Linked DNA regions of Homo sapiens: region 2 is linked to region 1. A link means that fine-mapping ties the variant in region 1 to the expression of a gene that starts in the linked region. Tissue or cell type: whole blood. Region 1 holds a variant in brackets; the other region holds the start of a gene. All regions are shown on one strand. Distances are from middle to middle.

Region 1 (2,691 bases):
TACAATTAAGTAATAAAGCCTGTACTTGTTCAGGAAAGATGTTTTCTATTCATAGTCTGATATCTGGGTGCTTTGGTTTCTGATAATTTGTTATGTAAAAACCCTGCAAATTAAAAAAAAAAAAATCAGCAGCTCCAAGTTCATGGGCCCTTATCACAGAGGATTTAAAACCTGTGCATTTTCTTTAAACTGAGAATATTATTACATTTTTTAATCCAGTGATGAGACCATAATAGTTTTCTGAAATAATTCAGAATAATTATATACCTAAAAGTTAATTTGCATGTGCTGTAATTTAAATAAAAGGACAGTTAATTTTTGCATTACAAAACATGAAAAATAAAATCAAACGTTGCATCTTTACTTTTATTACATAAATTCCTTTACATTGTAGTGCCCCCTAGCACCACGCAAGTTTATAAACTGCTTTCAATATTAATTATGTTATTATAATAATAACTAATTTAAGAATGTATTATTAAAGTCAGTAATTTAATAATAATAATTTCAATAATATATGTGTCACAAAAATACCTGAAATTACAATTAGTATGTCCGGTTTACTGATGGGAATACTGTGGCTCAAAAACATCATCTCAGGCAGGGTGTGGTGGCTAACTCATGTAATCCCAGCACTTTGGGGGTCCAAAGCAGGTGGATCGCCTGAGATCAGGAGTTTGAGACCAGCCTGGCCAACATGGTGAAACCTCATCTCTACTAAAGTACAAAACCGGTCCGGCATGGTGGTGCACACCTGTAATCCCAGCTACTCGGGGGGCTGAGGCAGGAGAATCACTTGAACCCATGAGGAGGAGGTTGCAGTGAGCCAAGATCACACCACTGCCCTCTAGTCTGGGTGACAGAGCGAGAGTCCTTCTCAAAAAAAAAAAAAAAAATCATCTCACCCAAATCATGTAGCTACAAAGTTATGGTTTAGAATAATTCAACTATTTTACTGAAATCAAAACTTTTACTATTAACCAATCAGTTACACTCAGCTTTGTGTAACTGAATACCAAATAACATCATGTTCCAGTAATTTTCATTTGAGTGAGAAGGGAGCACACTGGTACCCTGGACACACCCAGATACACTAAATCAGAACCTCTAAAACTTGGTGACTGTAAAAATAATTTTATTCTGAGTCTGAAACATATGCTCCGTGTTTCTTAGCAAGTTTCTGCAGCACAGGAGTCAGGTGAGGGAAGGTAGCGCCCCACTCCTGGTTATGGAAGGCAGAGGGTGAGTTCTGCTGCACATATGAAGCTATGGAGAGAGCAAGACTGCATAGGAGCAGGGTACAGTCTCTGGATATAGAAGACAGATAAACCTGGGTTATAGTTGACCCAGTGGAAAATTATAGGCCAAGAATAAGTTTCCAGATACCTTAATAGAACTGGGCATTTGATAAATTTTGAAAGTTCTCTGATAACTCGTATGTGCAGTGTAGGCTAAGAACTCACGGAAACAAT[A/G]TAGACATTTTTTGCCTCTCAGGGATATGCAGACACCCCAGTTCAGATATGATGTCTTCATGATCATCAGAAATCCAGATGGCTATTATCTTGTTGCTTTGCACCTCCAAGTACTGCTGCTTCTCATGTTGCCCCATGGCTGCCCCAGATCTAGCCATCAGAGCTGCCTTTCCAAGAAGGAAGAAAGCACAGAGATAGGACATGCCCCCTGCATGTAAGTCAGCTTCTCAGAAGTTACACGCGTTACTTCCCCTTACACAACATAGGTCAGAAATTGGTCACATGTGTCATGCCCTATGTTAAGAAAAGATTGGGAATATAGCATTTATTCCTGGTGATCATGTGTCCGGCTAAGCATTAGAGGACATTTTTACTGATGGCGAAAGGGTCAATGGAGATTGCAGTGAACCAGCCATCTCTGTCCAATAGGCACTTTATTTGGTGACGATAATTATAGGAAAGGTAGCACCAGACAGTTTTAATTCATTGAAGTTATTTTGGGTTTTTCTTGTTAATTTGTTTGTTTGCTTATTTGTTTTATCCTTCAGAGAAATGCTAGAAATTTAGTAATTAAATTAAATATTTCATTGAACACAAAAGCATAACATTATGGAAAAGAGTAACTGTTGTTTGGTTTTATTTATATATGTTAGTGTTTATACTGACTAATCTCACCAATGGAGACAGACAATTTCTAAGATTTATTATAGGCATTGTGTTTGGATCTTTCTTTCAGAAAAGTAAAAATCAGCTTAACCCAAAAATTATTTTAATAATAATTGGCATATCCAGCTTCATCCATGTCCCTACAGCGGACATGAACTCATACATTTTTATGTCTGCATAGTATTCCCATGGTGTATATGTGCCACATTTTCTTAATCCAGTCTATCATGGATGGACATTTGGGTTGGTTCCAAGTCTTTGCTATTGTGAATAGTGCCGCAATAAACATATGTGTGCATGTGTCTTTATAGCAGCATGATTTATAATCCTTTGGGTATATATCCAGTAATGGGATGGCTGGGTCAAATGGTTTTTCCAGTTCTAGAAGCTGGAAACCATCATTCTGAGCAAACTATCGCAAGGACAGAAAACCAAACACCGCATATCCTCACTCATAGGTGCAAATTGAACAATGAGAACACCTGGACACAGGGTGGGGAACACGACACACCAGAGCCTGTCGTGGGGTGGGAGGAGGGGGCAGGGATAGCAT
Region 2 (2,691 bases), 350 kb before region 1:
TTCGAGACCAGCCTGGCTAACATGGTGAAACCCTGTCTCTACTAAAAATACAAAAATTAGCTGGGCGTGGTGGTGGGCGCCTGTAATCCCAGCTACTCGGGAGGCTGAGGCAGGGGAATCGCTTGAACCCAGGAGGCGGAGGTTGCAGTGAGCTGAGATTGTGCCACTGCACTCCAGCCTGGGCGGCAGAGCGAGACTCTGTCTTTTAAAAAAAAAGAAAAATATTTAATTACCTTACCAAAGAAGATACATGAATGACCAATAAGCCATTAAATTAAAACTTCAGTGAGTATACACATATGCCCTGAAGTAGCTAAACTTTAAAACACTGCCCTATGTGTGTGTACTTTTTAGCTAAAAAAGTGTTTGAAAACAGTATTATTTTGAAACTCAAAATTCCAAATCCTCTCTTCAAATTAGGTAGTAGTGTCACTGGAAGTAAAAGAGAAGTTACTTTAACTGCTAAAGAGTATCCACTAAGAATCTACATCAAACATCATGTTTAATGCTCAAACTTTAGAAGAATTTATACCAAAAGTCAAGAATAAGATAGGATATCTATCTTCATTATTAAGCAACATTATATTAGAGGACCTAATCAATGCAACAAGGCAATAAATAAAAGACAAAACTGTCATAATCAGATACTACAAACATCTAAGAAAATTCAGGGGGATTTACAGTCATATATTAAACAGTCCAGAAGGAGTCCTATACATCATCAATGAATATTGAGAATAAAAAATAGTTTTTAAAACCCCTCCAATTTATAAGGGCAACAAAATGTACAAGGTACTAAAATAAATGTAATGTGTATTTGGGTATAAATACAGCAACATAATGAAAAGGTTTATTGGGGAAAAAATTACAGGGAGAAGGGTCAACAACGTGAAGAGGTTCCCCTGCCATCTGGACTTCTGGAAAAAGACCTGCTGGTCTAGGCACAGCTGGATGCACCATGGAAAGTGGTTCCAATAAACACTGGCACTGTAACAATTGTGTATGTTGATACAAAAAGAGGGAGCCAATGAATACTTGGTCGATTATTTAACAATTGCTTCTCTGCTGAAGAAATGGCCTTGTTGGACTAGAGCTTAACTGTGGTTCACATACTAATGCTGCTATAACAGCTAGAAGCCTTACTAAGAAATTTGCTAAACCACCAAAAAGAGGAAATGAACCTTCTAGGATATCTGGATTGCCTTTTCTTAAAAATCTAGTCTTGGCTGGGTGCTGTGGTTCACGCCTGTAATCCCAGCATTTGGTGAGGCCGAAGTGGGCGGATCACGAGGTCAAGAGATCGAGACCATCCTGGTCAACATGGTGAAACCCTGTCTCTACTGAAAATACAAAAATTAGCTGGGCGAGGTGGCATGTGCCTGTAGTCCCAGCTGCTGGGGAGGCTGAGGAAGGAGAATCACTTGAACCCAGGAGGCTGGGTTTGCAGTGAGCTGAGATCACGCCATTGCACTCCAGCCTGGCAACAGAGCAAGACTCAGTCTAAAAAAAAAAAAAATATATCTAGTCTGTATGGCAGCACAACATCAGGTAAAAGTACAGACTAGCCAGATCACTGGTTAACCTTAACCCCTATGTGCTTGAGTTTCCTTATCTGTAATATGGAGATGATATAGCAATAGCTGATTTTGGACTGTTAAAGGAATTAAGTGGACACATGTAAAGTGCTTAGAATTGTGCCTGGCAAGTAGTAGGCTGCAATATTGTGATATAATAAATATATATATTTGATCTTCATCCAGTTCCTGGCACAGATCTCCAGAAACCCTTGTAATTTCCTGAGTGACAGGGGTGATAGAAACATCTTTTATTAGAATACTTGGTCTTGGTTCCTGACACAAGAGCTTCTAAGACCTTTGGAATCTCCAAGTGATAAGAGTGTATGACAGTGAGCTAACTGGTGGCTGGGATCCTTTAGACAACTTCAGGATGGGGGCTATCCCCTGAAAGACTAAGGCATGATTAGAGGTCTGGGATTTGCAGCCCCACGCCTCGACCTCCAGAGAGGGTAAAAGGGCTGGAGATTGATTAACCACCAGTTGCCAGTGATTTAACCAATCATGCCTAAGTGATGGCACCTCCATTAAAAAATAAACCACAGGTTTGGAGAGCTTTCGGTTTGGTTAACCCCAACCACATACCAAGAAGGCGATGCACCTCAAACTGCATGAAGACAAAAGGTCCTGTGCTCACCTGGGACCCTTCTGGACGTTGCCCTGTGTACCTCTTCGACTGCCTGTTCATCTGTATCCTTTATAATAAAGCAGTAAACATAAGTAAAGTTTCTGAGTTCTGTGAGCCATTATAAGAAACGATCGAACCTGGGATTTTCCTTTCGGAAGCCGCTCTCTCTCACAAGGGAGAGAGCTGTTCTCCTTTTTCTTTTGCGTGTTAAACCTCCGCTCCTAAACCCACTCTTCGTGTGTATCGTGTCCTTAACCTTGTTGGTGCGAGACGACGAACCCCGGGTATTGACCCCAGACAACAATGCCACTTCATATTGGGGACTTCGTCTGGGATTCCAAGGTGCATTCATTGCAAAGGTGAGTAAAGGGGCGGACCTCAACTCTGTCCTTTGATTTCGAGGCTCTTGGCCTCCATTTTAGAATCAAACCAAACCAAATACTGGGCCCCCTTCTGCTTCTGTGAATGAGAAAACTCTGCCTTCACCAA

What was found. PIP is the estimated chance that this variant, and not a neighbour inherited with it, causes the effect.
Region 2: it holds the start of NAIP, and the variant in region 1 is fine-mapped to the expression of NAIP in whole blood (INTERVAL, PIP above 0.99).

What each region holds. Positions count from the first base shown.
Region 1 is chr5:70,676,353-70,679,043 of GRCh38, reverse strand. All of the region lies in intron 3 of LOC107986355 (a long non-coding RNA gene), which reads left to right. Among named protein-coding and RNA genes, the nearest start is that of SERF1A, 220 kb to the left of the region's middle. The variant A/G (reference allele first, on the strand shown) is at 1,473.
Region 2 is chr5:71,024,188-71,026,878 of GRCh38, reverse strand. NAIP (NLR family apoptosis inhibitory protein) reads left to right here and starts at 1,540. Exons shown (of 17, transcript NM_004536.3): 1 at 1,540-2,264; 2 at 2,473-2,561. RefSeq lists cis regulatory regions at 1-1,411, 1,777-1,990 and promoters at 1,412-1,776, 1,181-2,691.